3 linked regions of the Homo sapiens genome follow. The protein of the gene in region 1 interacts with the protein of each later gene in a pairwise test. Each region holds a gene or a part of one and is shown on either strand. Other genes may lie near its edges.

The links.
Region 2: the proteins of FRMD3 (region 1) and TMEM201 interact in binary tests that used the Homo sapiens proteins (3 or more experiments, as listed by UniProt).
Region 3: the proteins of FRMD3 (region 1) and CYB5B interact in binary tests that used the Homo sapiens proteins (3 or more experiments, as listed by UniProt).

What each region holds. Positions count from the first base shown.
Region 1 is NC_000009.12:83,243,786-83,248,978, forward strand, and holds the end of FRMD3 (FERM domain-containing protein 3), read right to left. Parts: intron 4,732-5,193; coding exon 4,133-4,731; 3' UTR 837-4,132; downstream 1-836. UniProt on the Homo sapiens protein: Putative tumor suppressor gene that may be implicated in the origin and progression of lung cancer.
Region 2 is NC_000001.11:9,584,128-9,592,823, forward strand, and holds the start of TMEM201 (transmembrane protein 201), read left to right. Parts: upstream 1-4,783; 5' UTR 4,784-4,803; coding exon 4,804-4,916; intron 4,917-5,228; exon of another isoform or gene 5,229-5,471; intron 5,472-5,479; exon of another isoform or gene 5,480-5,643; intron 5,644-8,696. UniProt on the Homo sapiens protein: Critical regulator of angiogenesis and endothelial cell (EC) migration. Promotes the migration of endothelial cells, which is essential for angiogenesis.
Region 3 is NC_000016.10:69,427,071-69,434,983, reverse strand, and holds part of CYB5B (cytochrome b5 type B), read right to left. Parts: intron 1-7,913. UniProt on the Homo sapiens protein: Cytochrome b5 is a membrane-bound hemoprotein functioning as an electron carrier for several membrane-bound oxygenases.

The sequences.
Region 1 (5,193 bases):
CTCCCCTACCCCTTTTGTTTCATTCCAAGTAACACCTTTTGGTTTAACTGTTAGGTATGGAGTTGTTAGCTTTGCGCCAAACCTAAGCAGAAGACCTGTCAAGGCTACGCTGGGCAGAGGGGAGGATAGAAGTGGAATCATGACCAGCCTGACCAACACGGAGGAACCCAACCTCTACTGAAAATACAAAAAATTAGCTGGATGTGGTGGTGCATGCCTGTAATTCCAGCTACTCAGGAAGCTGAGGCAGGAGAATTGCTTGAACCCAGGAGGAGGAGGTTGCGGTGAGCCGTGATCGTGCCATTGCACTCCAGCCTGGGCAACAAGAGCAAAACTCCATCATCATCTCAAAAAAAAAAAAGTGGAATCGTGAGATTCCTCCAAGGTGCGTGAACAGATAGAGAAGTTTAATGGCAAGTGTCACAGAGTTGAGTCTCATGCAGCTCTCTCTGGCGTGGGAAGGCACCCTTTTCTGGCCAGTGATGATAACATATTAATTTCTAGCACTCTGAAATCCATGCTCCTATCTGTCAGTCAGAATACCCCTCTTCTATTATTTTTTCTGTGCTTTTCTATTTCTCTGGTTAACTTAATATCATGAATTAGATCAAGGTTTATTTTATGTTTGAGCATATTTTCAGTGCTAGTATTCCTGCTTTGGGCCTGGATGACTTCTGCAAAGGGTTAATCTAATCTATTACCTGGGATTTTTTTTTTTAATACTATCACCATTATATGTTGACCTCATTTCATGGTCCTAGAGGGAATCCTTTTATAGTTTCCAACAACCTGACTATACAACTTTACTTTAAATAAAACTGAATGATTGCAAAAAATTTTACCCCAGAGTATTTTTATTAGGGATTCCTGCCACCATATTAACATATAAAACAATCTGGATGTTGACATAGAAATGCAAATTTCACTATACAAAGGTAAGGCTCCAATCACAGTAACATGGCCCCCATATCTCTAGTATTTCAATGAAATAAACTCATTGTGAATTCACCCCGAGTTGTGTTTATAAATATTAGACAAACCACAAAATATATTCCAAATACATAACATTTTACAATATTTTTCAAGCACAGACAAATACATACTTTACTTTACCTACATTGTTTTCATGATCCAACTTGCATTAGCACTAAAGGCAATATTGTGTGTGTATATGTATTTGCCATATGTGTGTGTGTATTATATATATTTATTTATATCCACAAATGTACACTCAGTGGCATTTATGGAAAATTTAACCCTTTCAGGCTGTGGGTTTTACCCACCATAGTATCTGAGAGGGAGAAGAACCAATAATACATCTCAAATTCCTCAATTAGGGCAAAATAAGCACAATTATGCATGAGGGGCATATATGTTGTGTCTATTCAAAGACACACATATATACAGATTCATATATAAACACACATATACCAATAATATGGAATATACATATACTCACACACTTGCTTTAAACTCTATATCTCACTCTATAATATACTGTCCATCTCTGGAAGCAGGCTTTTCCTCATTCGATTCAGGCAACTGGTGACTATCTTCTAACAAAACTTAAATGGATGTTTCTAAAAGGCTCTGATTCTATGCCGAGCAAATGGCATTTCAAGATTCCAGTTTAACTTTTGATGGCTGTTTAAATTCAGCAGACCCTATTCTGTCAACTTCTTCACTTAAAAACATTTCTATTCAACAATGAAGTTTCCACCTAAGAGAAAAGAGATGTTAGCTGGAAATGTTAAAATAATATATTTATTACTCCTTAAGATAAATCTGCATCGTTGGATTACATGTGATATTTATACTATCATATTTTTTAAGTATTTTACAATGGAAAATATATTAGTTCCATAATTTAAAAAATATTATATAATATTATTTTGAAAGACTGAGGGCCAGATGATTTGTCATAGTCAGAACTTTAGAGAAAATTATATGACGCATGATCAGAAGGGGACTAATTTTGTGCAGACTACACTAAAGTTGCCTTATGTCAGAAAGGATGACTTAGAAGTCGTATGAGAAAAGAAGGAGAAAAACACAAATTTCAATTTCAAACCTAGCCATCTGCAAGCTTCCAAAATAAATTGTTGAGGATTCCAATCACAGAAAATATATTCCTAAATCAGTATCAACTTTCAGGTAATAAACAAACAATCTTTATTTAAAAAGCAAAATAAATCACTGAAAGCATATAGGAAAGGAAACCCCTCAAACTTAATGGCAAATATATAGTCATTTGCTCGACTGCAGGCTTCACGAACTGAGTTTCAAAACTCATTTCCAAAATTAAATGTCCAGTGAAGTACTCAGAGCTCCACTGAGTGAGTGGAAATGTATTGCCCAATTTAGAAATCATGCTAATGATAGGGTTGGAATGTCATTAGCTAGAGAGAGCGATTCCAAGTGGGCCCTGTAACTTTGTACATTAGGGCAGTGGAATGTTTTCAATCCACAGAGAAGCTCTATGCTCCATGGCATAAGTTCTAGACTCTTATCTTTCTCCCACATAACACAGTATCAGCAGGTAGTCTGCATGGGAAGGCATCAGTACGTTGCTGATGGTACAATGCTCTAGTACCTTCCTTGATACCATTAAATTGTTGGATTAAATCCTTTCCATCATGGATTTAATGGTATCAAGGAAGGTACTAGAGCACTGGTCCCCTCTACAGTCTGGTTAGGGTCATGTCACTACTTTACCCAGGCTGAACTGGTATGTCATCTCATGAGGCCTCTCCAGTTTCTCTATGGAAGTCAAATTTTAAAACAACTGGGAAAGGAAAGGAGTATAATGACCACCGCAAAACATGATCATGGACATGTATCAAAAAGCCATTCATATTCTCTCTCTCTCTCTCTCTCTCTCTCTCACACACACACACACGCACACTCACATACAAACACATTTTTGAAGTTTCTTCTACAGAATCACAACAAATGGCATGAGGGATCAAAATATTTACCTTAAAGTTTCTCCACTTTTATTTAGATCCACTTAAACATGTTCATGTTAACTCAGACAGCGACTGCACTGCTCTTCACATCATCGAACGCTGGCATCACCATCACTTTCATAAAATAGACCATTCGCCTGTCACCATTTGCCTGCCAGCCTCACCAGAACTCATTTTTGCCACTTTCCATTTCTCCAGTTCCTATCTGCCTTCACTCTTGGGTTAATGTACATTGATATGCAACTGACTAGCACATCTGTTACCTTTTTTCCTTTAAACTCTCACTTTCTTTTTAAAACATCTGCTTCTCCAGCCAAAATATACGGACAGAATACAAATGAAAATAACAAGTCCTCTTGTCCAAATACTTTGAAAAATGGACCACCCTGAGTCCACTTGATGCTCTCAGTTTCTACATCCTCCAGTTCCATCCTCTGTTTTAGCAGCTTACTTACTATAGTGTCTTTCTACCCATTTTCTATCTCCTATGCAGATCATAACAAATTATGGTATTGTTCAGCCAAAAATATTTTTAAAAACAAAGTAGCGCCAAAACATTAAAAAAATTCTGATATACCTTTTGTGCATTAGTCTTACAATCTGTACATGTAAATAACTCCAGGAGGCTTCTTTTTTTTTTTTGCTAAAAATTTACCAAAATAGTTTGAACACATAAAAATATTTTTAAAAAAACAGAACCAAAAACCCAGCATAAATTTAGTTGTATAGGCATTGGTTAGAGGACACTGTTTTCACTAAGGATTATATTCAACAACTTTCTCTTGAGTTGTTACTAAAATTCTGATTCTGAACCTTATAGCTTATAATGGTGCCAACTATTAGAAATGGGAAAATCTAATTCAGTCCAATGTAACATGTATTATGATATAATAGATGAAGGGTATGTCTACACTATAATAAAAAATAAACATATTTTTGGTTATTTAAAGACCATCTTCCTAACCTGTAACTAAAATAACTGTATTTGATTTAAACTTATTTAAGTGCAGTGAATTATGGAAAGCTAACTTAAAGGTTTGAATAATCAATTATGAGTAAGGAACACCTGTTGACAGCCCCGTGACCCTTCAGAACCAGGCATTTGCTGAAAAAAAGAAATCACTAGCATTGAATATAGCCCTTAGTCACGTGAGAGATTAACTTCATGAGCAACCCAGCATGTAGAGGATGAGGTGGACTTTCCCAGCCACCCACTCCTTGAGGGGACAGTAGTATTCATAGTGAAACTGCTCAAACTCTGGTGTCTGGCGGATTTCGCATAAGAAGGAGAGATCAATACCTGACTCCAAAAGGAGGAGGAGCAGGGGAAATACAAAGAGCAGCAGTCCCAGGCCCACCACAAGGAGCCTGGAAAAACTCTTGACCAGTGGGTTCACCCGAATATGGCCAGTCAGAATGTCATAGCTCCACGACAAAGCACGGCGAGCCTCCTTCAGCTCCTCTTCTTCAGCAATCAAAAAGGCGTTTTCATCTGCTTCCAGATCCTCAAATGAATCTGTGTCTTCTCTTTCCAACTCAAGCCTAGAAGGACAGTCAAAGAGCATGTCAATCTCATCGTCATCCACAGGGGTGGGGAGCAGGCTGGCACTTGGGTTGTACACTAGTTCAGAGATGGTTAAAGGTTCTTCTTTTATTTTATCTTCCTCTTCACTAGGGGGATCTTCATACTCCCGGGCTGCCTTCACTGGGGAGCTGGAGATCAAGGGAGCAGAAATGTTCTCCTCTTTAGGCAATGGAACACCTGTAAAGAGACATTTTTTTTTCTAAATTTAAAATTTCAGATTTTCCCACAAAAATCTGCAGGAAGAAACAGAAAAACAAAAAACTAATGGGATTCAAGCAATCTATGAAATTATTCTGTGGTATCCTAAGTTGTAACAAAGTCGTATTATAGTAAAAGACCCTGTACCATAAGTTCAAAGGTCAACATGCTAAACTCAAACTAACCAACACTTCTCAAATGGTTGGCAATATTTACAACATTTAGGTGTGCAATTTTGATCTGCAAACCTTGAACCTTGGCCATGTTTGCTTGAATAAAATGACAATAAATTCACTATTATAATTATGAGCACTGTTTTTTTAGAGGTCAACAATATCACCCGATATATTATAGTAAAACAACAGAATCTGTCATTCAATGACAATCTCTTTATTATTCTGATGTATTGCTTTCTAGTCTTCATTCTAGACACAATTTTGT
Region 2 (8,696 bases), on another chromosome or scaffold:
TATATTGTACATGAAGGTTGGTTTTCAATTTGAACGTCTAGAAAGATACTCATTTCTAATACCTATGCACTGTAGTTTCAGGTTTACTTGCAGACACCCTGGTAGGGTTAAGAGGAGGATATTTCCAAGTTATTTTAAATTGAGTTTACTTTTAACTGGGGTTCTTGACTCTAGTGTAATTGCTCCAACAACTACGTAGAAGTCAAAATGAGTGACTTTAGTGAAGCTTCTGTACTTTACAATACATGACAGTAATGCTATTCCAGAAGTTTTGTTTTGTTTTGTTTTGAGATGGAGTCTCGCTCTGTCTCTCCCAGGCTGGAGTGCAGTGGCACAATCTCGGCTCACTACAGCCTCCACCTCCCGGTTTCAAGCAATTCTCCTGTCTTAGCCTCCTGAGTAGCTGGGACTACAGGCATGCGCCACCACACCTGGCTAATTTTGTATTTTTAGTAGAGATGGGGTTTCACCATGTTGGCCAGGCTGGTCTCAAACTCTTGACCTCAGGTGATCTACCCGCCTCGGCCTCCCAAAGTACTGGGATTACAGGAGGGAGCCACCATACCTGGCCCGCGCCGCCCCTTCCTTTGTTGTTATTGTTGTTTTGAGACAAGGTATCACTCGATCACTGAAGCTGGATACAGTGGCAAGATCATAGCTCACTGTAACCTCAAACTCCTGGGCACAAGGGATCCTCGCATCTCAGCCTCCCAAGTAGCTTGGACCACAGGAAAGTACCACCATGCCCAGCTAATGTTTTTTCATTTTTTGTGCAGACGAGGTTTTGCTATGTTGTCCAGGCTGGTCTCAGACTACTGGCCAGAAGCGATCTTACCTCCTCAGCCTCCCAAAGCACTGGAATTACAGAGTAACATCTAATTTTAATATTCACATTCCTATTTTAATATTCATATTCGATGATGGCACTTAGCAACATCCTCCTATATCCATATTAAAACCTGTTTTCCAAGATTGTGTCTAATATGAAGGTGTAAAATTGCTTTGTTTTCACTCCTTCTTGAATGAATAAATTTGATAGTAACCAATTATAATTTTAGTTTTCTGCTTCTCCTGCCCCAGGGCATGGAAATGCAAGCTGCTTAGGCACCCAAAGTAGGAAAGAAGTGATGGTTCCTCTGTAAAGGGCTCATTAGCTTTAAAAATGGGAAATACCTGTGGTTTTTCTCTTAATTTTTGTGGGTATATAGGAGGTATATATATTTATGGGGTACATGAGATGTTTTGATACAGGCGTGCAACGTGAAATAAGCACATCATGAAGAATGGGGTATCCATCCCTTCAAGCGTGTATCCATTGAGTTGCAAACAATCCAGTTACACTCTTGTTATTCTGAAATGCACAGTTAATGTTGGGGTTGGGTGGTTCACGCTTGTAATCCCAGCACTTTGGGAGGGTGAGGCAGGTGGAGGATCACTTGCGCTCAGGAGTTCGAGACCAGCCTGGCAACATGGTGAAACCCTGTCTTTATTTAAAAAAAAAAAAAAAAGCTGGGTGCGGTGGTGTGCACTTGTGGTCTCAGCTACTCCAGAGGCTGAGGCAGGAGAATGAAGGACTTGAGCCCAGGAGGCGGAGGTTGCCGTGAGCTGAGATGGCACCATTGCAGTCCAGCTTGGGTGACAGGAGTGACCCTGTCTCAAAAGTACGATTAAATTATTATTGACTGTAGTCATCCTGTTGTGCTTTTTTCTTTCTCTTTTTTTAATATAAAGATTTTTTAAATTAAAACAATTTTTTTTTGAGACGGAGTCTCGCTCTGTGGCCCAGGCTGAAGTGCAATGGCATGATCTCGGCTCACTGCAACCTCCACCTCCTGGGTTCAAGCGATTCTCCTGCCTCAGCCTCCCAAGTATCTGGAATTACAGGTGCCCGCCACCACGCCTGGCTAATTTTTGTATTTTTAGTAGAGACAGGGTTTCACCATATTGGCCAGGCTGGTCTCAAACTCCTGATCTCAAGTTATCTGCCTGCCTTGGCCTCCCAAAGTGCTGGGATTACAGGCATTAGCCACCTTGCGGTAGCTCACACCTGTAATCCCAGCACTTTGGGAGGCTGAGGAAGGAGAATTGCTTGAGGCCAGGAGTTCAAGGCCAGCCTGGGCAACATAGGGAGACCTTCTCTTTACAAAAAAATTAGCTGAGCATGCACCTGTAGTCCCAGCTACTTGGGAGGCTGAGGTGGGAGGATCCCTTGAGGCCAGGAGGTTGAGGCTGCAGTGAGCCATGGGATTGTGCCACTCTACTCCAATCTGGACGACAGAGCAAGAGGGGCATCTGAGCCTGTGGAATGGTCTGACTTCAAAGTCAAGATCTGACAAACCATTTCATTCCTTTTACTTAAGAATTACAGATCCATGGATGATACTGCTGATAAAGGTGTGCTTAAACTAATGCACGTAATAGAATTGGCCACATAAAGAGTCCTTTGGGTGGGACATGCAAACTGAATCTTCCTTGGGAAGCAAATGGCACTTAAACACAATGCCTGCCTGCTGTTTTGAGGGAAGATACACCTTAAATGATTATTTTGTTTGCTCATGGCTGGTGAAAGCATCAAGACTGCATGGAAAGGCTTTTGCTGGGATACTCACAAGAAAGAGGAGGTCCAGACCCAAGTGAACCTCCAGGTTTCCTGTCTGCTTCACTTTCCAGTCCCCCTTCCCCCCAGTGAATGTGCATGATTCCGGTGTGGACAGAGGAACTGGCTGCAGGAGCAAAAAAACATTTGCCCTCAATCCATCACTACCCACAAAGAGTTTACAATGTTAACCTCAAAAAAAAAAAAGTGATCAGAACACTGGAACATAGTGTGTAATTAGATACAAATATTTTCTGTTTACTTTTTTAAAACTAGTAATTTAGCTGAAATCAATAATGAAACACAGTGACTCTTCCCCTTGAATCTCCTCCCACCACCAGGTAATCAGTTTGCAGTTCAGTGTTAACTATTCTCCACTTCCCACAAGCACATAAGGCTTTATTTAAGCTTTGGATATTATTTAAAAATCAATCTGCATGTTGCTTTTTCTTTTTCTTTTTCTTTTTTTTTTTTTTTTTGAGATGGAGTCTCACTCTGTTGCCAGGCTGGAGTGCAGTGACGCAACCTCAGCTCGCTGCAACCTCCGCCTCCTGGGTTCAAGCAATTCTCCTGCCTTAGCCTCCCATGTAGCTGGGACTACAGGCGCCCACCACCACACCCAGCTAATTTTTGTATTTTTAGTGGAGACCAGGTTTCACCATGTTGGTCAGGATGGTCTCCAGCTCCTGACCTTGTGATCCGCCTGCCTCGGCCTCCCAAAATGCTGGAATTACAGGCGTGAGCCACCATGTGCCCGGCCTGCATGTTGCTTTTTTGTTGTCGTTTTTGTTTTTTCAGAAGGAGTCTCCTGTCACCAGGCTGGAATGCAGCGGCACAATCTTGACTCGTTGCAACCTCCGCCTCCCAGGTTCAAGCGATTCTTGTGCCTCAGCTTCCCGAGTAGCTGGGATTACAGGTGTGCACCACCACGCCCGGCTAATTTTTGTATTTTCAGTAGAGATGGGGTTTCACCATGTTGCCCAGGCTGGTCTTGAACTTCTGACCTCAGGTGATCCGCCCGCCTCGGCCTCCCAAAGTGCTGGAATTACAGGTGTGAGCCACCGCGCCCTGCCTGCATGTTGCTTTTTAAAAACAATGTATCATCCATCTATGCCAATAACTCCAGATCTGGCTTTCTTTTCTTTTCTTCCTTTCTTTCTTTCCTTCTTTCCTTCCTTCTTTCCTTTCTTCCTTCCTTCCTTCTTTCTCTCTCTCTCTCTTTCCTTGCCTTTCCTTTCTTTTTTGAGAAGGAGTCTCGCTTTTGTCGCCCAGGCTGGAGTGCAGTGGCGCGATCTCGGCTCACTGCAAGCTTCGCCTCCCGGGTTCACGCCATTCTCCTGCCTCAGCCTCCCGAGTAGCTGGGACTACAGGCGCCCGCCACCACGCCCGGCTAATTTTTTGTATTTTTAGTAGAGAGGGGGTTTCACCGTGTTAGCCAGGATGGTCTCGATCTCCTGACCTCGTGATCCGCCCGCCTCGGCCTCTCAAAGTGCTGGGATTACAGGCGTGAGCCACCGCGCCCTGCCTGGATCTGGCATTCTTTCTAATGGTTGCATTATGTTCCGAACTATGGCTGTCCTATGATTTATTCAACCATGTCCCTATCCGTGGATGATCGTGTTTCTAAAAAGCTAGTTTTTCAACCATTAGAGCGGCTCAAGGAGCTGCTAAACAGCACTGGGCGCATAGGCTGGGTTTGACTAGACAGGATTAGCGAGGGGGAAAAAGACTAATTACAAGCAGTTGCGTACTCTGGAGATGCTCCCCTTAGCAGAAGCTCGGTGGACTGTCTGCAGCCAGACCTCCGGGCCTGGCGGCTGGCGCGGGAGGCAGAAGGCGGGGCTTTCCTACAGGGCTCCGTGCCCCGCCCTCCCCGCGCCGCCTTCCACCTCCGGCCGCGCGGGGGCGCTCCCCGGCCGGCTCTGTCGCTTCCGCCGCCGCCCCGCCCACCCGGGCTCACCCCTCGTCCCGATTGGCTGCGCGACGGGAGCGCGCCGAGTCAGGGGGCGGGCCCGCGCCCGCTACAAAGCGGCGAAGGTCACGGCGCGAGGAGGCGCGCGTCGCCGCCCCGCGTCCCGCCTGCGGCCCGCGCCCCCGGCGTCACCGCCTCCTGCCCGCCTGCCCGCCTGCCCGCCTGCCCGCCTACCCGCCTACCCGCCTACCCGCCTACCCCCCTGCCGGCCTGCCGTCCTTCCACGCGGAGAGCCATGGAGGGAGTGAGCGCGCTGCTGGCCCGCTGCCCCACGGCCGGCCTGGCCGGCGGCCTGGGGGTCACGGCGTGCGCCGCGGCCGGCGTGTTGCTCTACCGGATCGCGCGGAGGTGAGTGCATGGTTCGGCCCCACGCGGCCCTCTGCGCCGCCCGCCAGGCCCGCCCCCGCGCCGCCCCGGCCCGCTGCCCCCCTCGGCCGGGACCCGGGCTGCCCGCGGGCGCGCGGAGACCCCCGGCGCGCGCCGCCGCCCCCCGAGACCGGGTTGAGACTGCAGTCGGGAAGCGGCTGCGGAGTCGAGTGGAGCGGCGGGGACTCCGGGAACGTGGGGCGCGGGCGAGAGCGCCGCGCGGGGGCCACAAACTTCCTCCGGGAGCCGCGGGGGGCTGGAGCCGGTGCGCACGGGCCGCCCCTGCCCTCAGCCCCGTGCTGGGCCCCGGTGCACGGCGATGCTGGCGATCGCGGCTGGCGGTTGCTGCTCGGCATGTGACGTCCCGGGCGTTTTTCTACACGCCTCGCATCCGCGCGTTTCAGAGCCACAGCCCCTGCTTACGCTAGAGCAGCTGAGGGACAGGGAGGCTCAGTAACTTGCTGTTAATGAGAGGAATCATGGTTTGAGCCGATGGAATCTGCAGGGCAGACCCCGAGGCTGGGCTGCCTCCCAGAGGTGGGCAAGGCCTGAGATGCCTCCAAACAGTTCAAGACGGGCCGGGGCCACCCTCCTCCCTGCCCGGCTCACGGGCCATGCGGGCCCCCGGGTTCAGATCCGGCCTCTTTCATCGGCCTCCATCGCCAGGCATAAAAGCTTAGTGGCCTGTTGCTTCAGCAGAGCCTCGCAGGTAGCTTACTGTTTCTCCACTTGATCCACCTTTCCAGAGGGCAGGGGGGAAAGTGGGGTTGTGAGAACATCCTAGAAAGAGTGGATGGGTTTGCAGCTTCGGCAAGGGATGCAATGAGCTCACACCCTTAGGAAAAAGGGGAGAAGGGACTTGCCCACTCAGCAGCAAGTGGCAGAGCTGGGGTTTGAACCCTGATCGTCTGGCTGGTCTGTTTGTTCTTCCTTAACACATACCGGTGCTGCTTCTCTCCTCCAGGGGGGAAACGGGGAAAAAGAAGTACAGGTGGTTGAGTCACAGAGGCTTCCCAGAGGAGGAAGGCATGGGAGGGACATCAGCTGTGTCTGGAGGATGGGCCAGATGTGACTGAGGAGGGTAGCTGGGGATTGAGTGACCCCAGCCCAGAGGTCCCTGACAACCCAAGTCTCTCCATGTCGGTTTCTGCTGGATTCCTGGAAGTTGAGCATCTGCAGGACCAGCTTGTCCAAGCCGGTGGTTTTATACCCAGGGGACCGAGGTCCAGAGACCTCAGGTGATTTGCTCACATTCCCAGAGCATGTTGCCAGCTGAGCTGGTCCAGCACCCGGTGTTCTTCCTGGACGAAGCCGCCTCTCAGCTAACCCAGGATGGGGGGTGTTGCCTCAAGGATGAGAGCCTGGGGGAGGGGATAGTCTGCCAGCCACACAGCACCTCCGTTGTGTTTATTGAGGCTGGACTTGGACTGGGTGGCTCACTGTGCCACACACTGCAGCTGTCCTCAGGGATGCTGTCTCCCCTTCCTGCCCTGCTGGCCACAGCTCTCCATCTCCTGGAAACAAGAGTCTGGGGCCTTGGAGAGATATTGGGCTAGCTGGTGCCAGGGGAACTAGGAGGGTGCCTGGAAGTCCTTTCACGCCCCTGACGACACCAGCAGGTCACGGTGTGGCATTGAGACCCTTGCTGTTGATTGGGCCGAGAAGGGCCAGCCTTTCCCAGGATGCTTTAAGATGTCCTCATAGAGCACTGGGTTTCACCTGGAGGTCATAAATTGGCCACTGTCACGATTCAGAAGCCAGACCAACCTAGCAAGAGGTTGAGCCTTCCTCCGAGGAGGAGAGTGCTGTGACAGTGAGGAACCAAGCATTGACTCTGGCTGCAGTGTAGGTTTTGAATGACCCTCGGGAGGGCATGTAAGGAGAGCTGTTTTTGGAAGGCGACTTGGCTGGGTGGGTGTTTGCAGGCTCAGCACAGAGATGGACAGAGAGGAAGATGTAGAGGGAGTGGGCAGGTCAGCCCCACCTTGTGCTTTAGGACTGGCTGAGGCGCATGGGAAGGAGGCTGCTTCTCTGAAGGACTGAGTCCTCCCACAGCCTCAGTCAGGGCCCGCCCTGGCTTCCCCACGCATGGAGTCCTCTCGCTTCCATGGTTGTTACTGATGGGAGCAGCTGATGGCTGTAAGCACAGCACACTGTCTCCTCATGAAACTGCCAGGGCGGGCTCTACTGTTCTCCCATTTTACAGATGAGGAAACCAAAGCTTGGGGAGGTTGGGCTACCTGCCCCACATCACCCGGCTGTTAAATGGCAGGGCCCTGCCTCGCACCAGAACTTCAGCTTGTCAGCCCAGCTTCAACCTCTGGGTGCTCATGGAGCCCCTTGGCTGCTTCTCTGCACCTATGGGAAGCCACCACGGTCGGCACAGTTGGGGGGCAGATGCCCCAGTTTCACTTCCCTGTGTCCAGGCCGTCGTGAAGTCTGTGGCTTCCTAGGCCTCCCTGTCCCCTGGACGCTGCTGCTCGGGTGCCTGTCCTCAGCCCTCTTCAAACGATGCCCAGGATCCGTGCTCTGCCAGCACATCCCTGCACACACCACCGCCCCGCCTCCGGGGCTTTGTTGGTGTTTACTGGGATTGTCTCCTTTCTAGTGTTTGGGGACAAAGAGGATGCAGCCTCCCAGAGGATATGCAGCAGAGCCTCATTCTGGAAGTCAGAGTCCCCTGTAACGGCCCTTCCCGTTTCCAGGCTCCCCCCTCCCACTCACTCTCCTGCTGCTGCGCACTCTCCCTGAGCAACCGCCGCACCCCGGGCATACGTTGGGTGGTCCCCTCCCTCTGCCGTCTGCCCTGCTGGTGAGCACAGCTGTGCTTCAGGGCGACCGCAGATGCCCCGCTTATTGGCCTCTGTCCTGTGGTATCTGTCACCAGCTGCCCTGGGAGGTCGTCGTTCTTGTCTTGCTCACGTTTGCATCTCTGCCAGCCTAGGGTGGTGCTTGCTTAACTGATGGGATGTTCCGCTCGCACCAGGAGCGACCCTAGAATGGTGGATTGGGGCGTTTTCCATCCTGATGTTGGAGTTGCTGCTGTGGATTCAAGTATGTTTTGCTTGGAGATGGGCTGGAGGCCCTGGCAGTGCTAAGTTCTGAGTTGCATTTTGATGCTTCTGTCGCTGAAGCCCAGGAGGCCTCTTCTCTGGTCCTTCTGGTTGAATGAAACACGGTGTTGCCCACTTAAGCGGGAAGTGCAGGTGAGGAGCTGCTTGGGAGGCTGGCCTCTGGCTCCCTGGCCCCTGAGGGAACCTGACTCTTACAGTCTTTCCAACCCCGCACTGGGGCCAGCACACAGTGTCCCAGGTCCTGAGCAATGTGCTAAGGCCCCTGTCTGAGGAGGTGATGATTTCCCAGGGCTGGGCAGAGACTCTGGGAGCTGGCCAGCCTGCTACAACCACTGAGCTCCCCAGGGCAGGGACCAAGCCCCATCCAGTGCCCCCTCTAGCAGGTTCCCCCTACCTGGTGCTTTCCTAGGCTGAGGACCCAGCGCTGGGCTCGCACCTAGAACAGAGCCCCTCCCACCTGCAGGGAATAGTGAGGCATCCCGCAGGAGCTTTGTTTCAATACATGTCCGTGCTCAGGGCTCTGGAGTGGTGTCATCATTAAGGACACGTGCCCGTCTTGTTTTCCCTCAGTGTGTATGTTGGGCTTGTGGACGGGGCAGGTACAGAGCATGCAGCTGCCCTAGCTTTTTCTTAGGGACCCATCTCCCTCCGGGCTTCCTCAGGCTTCCCAGGGGCTCGGCATCGAGCT
Region 3 (7,913 bases), on another chromosome or scaffold:
ATAAATGGCCAATAAGCCCATGGAAAGATACAACATCATTAGTCATCAGGAAAATGCAAGTTAAAACCACAATTATATACCATTACACACCCATTACAATGATTTTTTTTTTTTTTTTTTTGAGATGAAGTCTTGCTCTGTCACCCAGGTTGGAGTGCAGTGGCGCGATCTCAGCTCACTGCAACCTCCACCTCCCGGGTTCAAGCGATTCTCCTGCCTCAGCCTCCCAAGTAGCTGGGACTACAGGCACCTGCCACCACACGTGGCTAACTTTGTATTTTTAGAAGAGATGGGGTTTCACTATGTTGGCCAGGCTGGTCTCGATCTGCTGACCTCGTGATCTGCCCACCTCAGCCTCCCAAAGGGCTGGGATTACAGGCGTGAGCCACAGCACCTGGCCAACCACACACCCATTAGAATGGTTAAAAGTAAAATAACTGACAAATACAATGTATCAATGAAGATGTGAAGAAACTGGAAAACCTACATTGTGGTGGGAGTATAAAATTATATAAACACTTTGGAAAATGCTCTGGCAGTTGCTTAAAAAGTTAAACAGACATATAACCTAGTAATCTCACTCCTAGCAATTTTACTACTAGGTATTTGCCCAGGAGGAATAAAATCATATGTCCACACAAAGATTTGTACATGACAGTTCCTAGCAGTTTTATTCATAACAGCCCCAAACTGGAGACAACCCAAATGTCAATCAACAAGTGAATGGATAAACAAATTTTGGTATGTTCACACAATGAAATCATAAGTTACAAATCACTGATAACACAGAAAAAATAGATGAATCTCACAGATATACTGAGCAAAAGAAGCTAGACAGAAGAGTACGTACTATAGTGTTAGAAATAAAATGAGTGTGTATGGGGACAACACTGGTAGAAATGTTCTACAGTTATGTGCCACATAATATGGTCAACAATGGACCATATATATGATGGTGGTCCCATAAGATTATAATACCATATTTTTATTGCACCTTTTCTATGTTTAGATGCACAAATACTTGTTACTGTGTCACAACTGCCTACAGGTTTGTACAGGTTTATAGCCTAGGAACAAGAGACTATACCGTACAGCTAAGGTGTGTAGCAGGCTATACTACCTAGGTTTGTGTAAATATACTCTATGATGTTTGTGAAGGGGTAAAATCAACTAATGATGCAGTTCTCAGAATGCACCCTCATTGTGAAGTGACCCATGACCGTATATTGATTGTGATGGTGATTATACAGATGAGACATTTGTCAAAACTCACTGAACTCTACATTCAAAATCTGTACATTTTATTGTCCCTACATTTGATTTCAATTAAGTTGATTTAGAGAAAAAAATGTGACAGCAAAATATTGAAAAACCCAAATGTTTATCAATAGGATACTGCTTAAATAATGATCCATATAATAAATCCTATGCAGCTGTGGTGAAGGAGGAGGAGGGATGCCAGTTATTGCTATGGAAAGATCCCTGAGATACACAGTTAAGTGAAAAAGGCAAGACACAGATGAGTGTGCATAGTATGTTATCTTTTGTGTAAAAAAAGAGAAACTACATTCACTTTGGCTTGTACAGGCAAAAAGAAACTAGAGGGATACACAAACAATGGGAGTTAACTTTAGGAGGCAGTGAAACTGGGCAGAGGGGAAGGTGGCTTTTTACTATATACCTGTTTGACCTACTTAAAAAATGAAAAAAATTACCTAGGTTCCAGGAAAGGGGTATCTGTTCTAACTTCCCTATACCACATTCCCAATCCTTCCAAATTATATTTAAAATGTGAACAAAGCTATAAAACAGACCTAATTCCATACTCTGCAGCCATGAAAAACATTGAGGCAGATCCTAGGGTACGGTTAAGAGTACAGGCCACAGGCCGGGCATGGTGGCTCAGGCCTGTAATCCCAGCACTTTGGGAGGCTGAGGCAGGCGGATCACCTGAGGTCAGTAGTTTGAGACCAGCCCGGCCAACACGGCAAAACCCCGTCTCTATTAAAACTACAAAAATTAGCCAGATGTGGTGGCAGGTGCCTGTAATCCCAGCTACTCAGGAGGCTGAGGCAGGGAGAATCGCTTGAACCCGGGAGGTGGAAGTTGCAGTGGGCTGAGATCGCGCCATTGCACTCCAGCCTGGGTGATAGAACGAGACTCTGTCTCAAAAAAAAAAGGAGTACAGGCTATAGGGTCACAGTGCTTGATTTCAAATCTCACCTGTGCCACCTAACTTTATGACTCTGTGAAAGTTACTCCTCTGCTCCTGTTTTCTCACCTCTAAAACAGGTTGTTGGGAGGCTTAAAAGAGAAATTACATGTAAAGCACTTAGAATAATAAGCACTCAATAAATACTATGACGACTACGAGGGCAAATCAACTAATAGAATACTATGACTCTATTTCTGTATATATTTGTACATATTTGTATATATAAGTATATACATGTTTGCACATATAAGTATATGCACGGAAGATGTAGTATTCAAACAAATTATTGGGATTGAAAGAGTTTAGCCTACCCTAACTTAAATGTGTTCAGAACATTTACGTTAGCCTACAGTTGGGCAAAATCATCTAACATGAAGCCTATCTTACAATAAAGTGCTGACTATTTCATGTAATTTATTGAATACCATACTGAAAGTGAAAAACAGAATGCTTGTATGAGTACTCACATATCACTTTCACACCATGGTAAAGTCAAAAAATTTTAAGTCAAGCCCTAGTAAGTCAGGGACTGTCTGTAAATTGCTTCAATGTCATCCCTCATCTTCAAACATGTCAGTGGTTTTCTATTACCTTTTGGATCAAATCCAAACTACCTACCAGACCTTGCATGTCCTGGGTCCCGCCTAGCTCTCTGGCCATTCTTGTCCTTCATTCACTATAGACACAGCTTCTTTCAGTCCCACTAATGTGCCAAACTCTTGCTTGACTTCAAATGCTGCTGGAATGCTCTTTTCTGTATTCTTTCCAAATCAGGTTCATGACCATCAGCTCAATTAAATGTTATCTTCTCACAGAGGCTTTCCCAGATCACTCTTATTAAATTAAATCTTTCCTGATTTTTCTTTCTCAACTCATTTGTTTTCTTCATAAAAGTGCCATAATTTAAAATTATTTCATCTGTCTGTTTTTGTTTTGACTCCTCTAGAATGGTAGCTTCAAGAAGGCAGTATCATGGGATATTTTCGTTTTGTTTGTTTGGAGACAGGGTCTCGCTGTCACCCAGGCTGGAGTGCAGTAGTGCTATCTCGGCTCACTGCAGCCTCGATGTCCTGGCCTCAAGCCCTTCTCCCACCCCTGCCTCCTGAGGAGCTGGGACTACAGGCTCATGCCACCATGCTCGTCTAATTTTCGTATTTTTTGTAGAGATGGGGTTTTGCCATGTTGCCTAGGCTGGTCTCAAACTCCTGAGCTCAAGTGATCTGTCCACCTTGGCTTCCCAAAGTGCTGGGATTACAGGCGTGAGCCACTGCACCCAGCTTTGTTTTGTTTTTAAGACAGAATCTCACTCTGTCGCCCAGGCTGGGGTTCCATGTTTATGTTTATTTTTATACACCACCAGGGCCTACTACTATATAGAACTTAACAAATATTTGTTGGGTTAATAAAATGTTATCCCATTTATGAGATGGTTCCTAAAGTAATATTCTCATTTATGGTGACAGTTTCTAAAAACACATATAGGCCGGTGCCGTGGCTCACACCTGTAATCCCAGCACTTTGGGAGGCCAAGGTGGGCAGATCACTTGAGGTCAGGAGTTCGAGACCAGCCTACCTAACATGGTGAAACCCCATCTCATAAAAACTAGCCAGGTGTGGTGGGAGGGACCTGTAGTGCCAGCTACTCCAGAGGCTGAGGCAGGAAAATCGCTTGAACCCAGGAGGCAGAGGTTGCAGTGAGCCAAGGTAATGCTACTGCACTCCAGCCTGGGCGACAAAACAAGACTCCATCTCAAAATAAATAAATAAATAAATACACATATAAAGCTTTAAAATAGGGCTGGGCATGGTGGCTCACACCTGTAATCCCAGCACTTTGGGAGGCCGAGGCGGGTGAATCACCGGAGGTCAGGAGTTCAAGCCCAGCCTGGCCAACATGGCAAAACCCCATCTCTACTAAAATAGAAAAATTAGCCGGGCATGGTGGCATTCACCTGTAATCCCAGCTACTCAGGAGGCTGAAGCAGGAGAATCACTTGAACCTGGGAGGCAGAGGTTGCAGTGAGCTGAGACCATGCCATTGCACTGCAGCCTGGGCGACAAGAGTGAAACTCTGTCTCAAAAAAAAAAAAAAAAAGTTTTAAAATATCACAATGTTATTTCAAGTTACTCTTTTGACAAATGACTATTTATACACAAGTCAATGGCTTCCAAATTTTCACTTGTAATACCCAGTAAGGAAATAATTTTACACTGCAATCCAATAAACACCATATACATGAGATATTATAGGCCAGGCACAGTGGCTCATGCCTGTAATCCCAACATTTTGGGAGGCCAAGGCGGAAGGATCACTTGAGCCCGGAGTTTGAGGCCAGCCTGGGCAACATGATGAAACCCCATCTCTACAAAAAAAATACCAAAAAAATTAGCAGGGTGTGGTAGTACATACCTGTAGTCCCAGCTACCTGGGAGGCTGAGGCGGAGGATTGTTTGAGCCCAGGAGGCAGAGGCTGCAGTGAGCCAAGATGGCACCACTGCACTCAAGCCTGGACAACAGAGCCAGACTGTCTCCAAAAAAAAGAAAAAAAAATACATTATATATAACTGAACAAAGTTTCACAAAATTTTACCCTTGATAAGAGAGATGCACTTTGATATTTTCTATCAATGTCATAAGATATTACAATCATTTTTATGTGATTTTTCTAAACTACTAAATGGTGGAAAGATAATGACATGTACTACTTTCATTCATGATTTCAACAACTCATGAATGCACTGATTCAAACAATGCAAAATTAATCTGCCAGGGAAAGACAATTCAATTATATTACTAATTCTAAACTACCACATTCAAACTCCAGTATCATACTCTAACCAGTCATTAATCAAAAAAATGGTAAGCTACAGACACAGGACACTTAAGATTAGGAACCTCTTGCTAAAGGAGGGGCCCCAAAGTGACATCAGATTGGAAAGAGAAGGATGAATACCAATGTAAATCTTCCCTCTCTCATCTAATAGCAACCCAACTCTTGAAGACTCATAAGCCAAAAACTTTGGTGTTATCCTTGACTCATTTTTCTTTCATTCCCCAAATCTGGCGCATCATTAAATCCTATTGGCTCTTCCATCACAACACATCCAAAATCTGACACTTGTTCTGGTACAACCCACTATCTCTTGCCTAATTACTAAAACAGCCTCCTAACTGGTCTCCTCAATTCTGCCCTTGTCCTCTTAAGAAGGCAAAGCCAGCTGGACTTCCTGGGTGGAGTGGGGACTTGGCAAACTTTTGTGTCTAGCTAGAGGATTGTAAATGCACCAATCAGTATGCTGTAAAAATGCACCAATCAGCACTCTGTGTCTAGCTAAAGGATTGTAAATGCACCAATCAGCACTCTGTAAAAATGGACCAATCGGCACTCTGTAAAATGGACCAATCAGCAGGATGTGGGCGGGGACAAATAAGGGAATAAAAGCTGGCCACCCCAGCCAGCAGCATCAACCTGCTCTGGTCCCTTTCCACACTGTGGAAACTTTGTTCTTTCACTCTTCACAATAAATCTTGCTGCTACTCACTCTTTGGGTCTGTGCCACCTTTAAGAGCTATAACACTCACCGCGAAGGTCTATGGCTTCATTCTTCAAGTCAGAGAGACCAAAAACCCACCGGAAGGAACCAACTCCAGACACACTCTTCCTTCAGTCTTTCACAACAATGTAGTCAGAACGATCCTATTACGCCATTAAGTCACATCATGTCACTCTTCTGCTCCAATGATTTCCCATCTCAGAATAAAAGCCAAAGTCCTTCCTAAAACCTGTGAAGTTGTACATGATTTGTCCTCCCCTGATCATTCTGATCTCATGTGCAACTATTCAACCACTGTGGCCTCCCTGACTGTTCCTCAAACATACCAGACATCCTCCCATCTCAAGGCCTTTGAACTTGTTTCCTCTGCCAGGAATGCTCTATGCTCTTCCTACAGATACCCTCATGGCTAGCTCCTTTACTTTGCTCCTGGCCTTTACTTAGTCATCTTCATAAAGTTATCTCGGCACCATCGCTAAAATTTCAAACCCTCCTCCTCACACCACATAAATATTCCACAGTCCTCTTCCCTGTATTATTTTTCTTTTTTTTTTCATTTGTGACGGAGTCTCACTCTATCACCAGACTGGAGTTCAGTGCCACAATCTTGGATCGCTGCAACCTCCAACTTCTGGGTTCAAGTGATTCTCCTGCCTCAGCCTCCCAAGTAGATGAGAGTACAGGCACATGCCACCATGCCCAGCTAATTTTTGTATTTTTAGTAGAGATGGGGTTTCACCATGTTGGCCAGGATGGTCTCAATCCCGACCTCATGATCCATCCGCCTCGGCCTCCCAAAGTGCTGGGATTACAGGCCTAAGCCACCGTGTCCAGCCCCCTGTATTATTTTTCTTCTTAGCACTTACCACTACCTAATGTAGTATATATTTTAGTTATTTACTCTGCTTATCGTCTGCCTCCTGTGCCATGTAATCTCCATGAGGGCATAGCTGTTTATTCACTACTAAATCCCCAGCACCTAGAACAGTGTCTAGAACATAGTAAAGGCTTAATAAATATTTGAATAAGTGAATGAATGAATAGGCTTGGAATGAACAAGAAAACAGAATAAATAAGAATAGCTAATTAGGCTGAGCACAGTGGCTCACACCTGTAATCTCAGCACTTTGGGAGGCCCAGGCAGGAGGATCCCTTGAGCCCAGGAGTTCCAGACCACACTGGGCAATAGTGGGACCCCAATTCTTTTTTTTTTTTTTTTTGAGACAGAGTCTGACTGTCGCCCAGGCTGGAGTGCAACGGCACCATCTTGGCTCACTGCAACCTCCACCTCCCGGGTTCAAGCGATTCTCCTGCCTCAGCCTCCTGAGTAGCTGGGATTACGGGTGTGTGCCACCACGCCCAGCTAATTTTTTTGTATTTTTAGTAGAGACGAGGTTTCACCATTTTGGTCAGGCTGGTCTGGAACTCCTTACCTCATGATCTGCCCACCTTCGCCTCGCAAAGTGCTGGGATTACAGGTATGAGCCCACACCCAGCCAGTGGGACCCCAATTCTACAAAAAATTTTAAAAATTAGCCAGGCGTCGTGGTGCACACCTTTTCCCAGCTATTCGGGAGGTTGAAATAGAAGGATCACTTGACCCCAGGAGACTGAGGCTGCAGTGAGCTGCACTCCAGCCTGGGTGAAAGTAAGACCTTGTCTCAAAAAACAAAACAAAAAAAACAAAACTGCAGGTAAAGAGCTGCAGCTCAAGCTCCAAGAGAAACCTTGGCACATTAGTGATGTCTCTGGCTATATCAGCATGTGGTTGAAACAGGTTAGTTACTTCTGGAATCTTCACAGAGGAAAAAAAAAAAGAAAGAAACAGGTTAGCAACTATTACTTGAGACTGAATTAATGCTCTCTGTAAGGGCTGAGTGTTCCCTCCAAGCTCACCATCTATTCTGAATCAATCAAGAAAAAAAATGGAGGGAAATAAAACCACAAATGAAAAACATGATTTTTTTTTTCTTTTTTTGAGATGGAGTCTCACTCTGTCACCCAGGCTGGAGTGCAGCAGCACCATCTCACCTCACTGCAGCCTCCACCTCCCAGGTTTAAGCGATTCTCCTACCTTAGCCTCCCAAGTAGCTGAGATCACAGGTGCCACCAAGCCTGGCTTATTTTTGTATTTTTAGTAGAG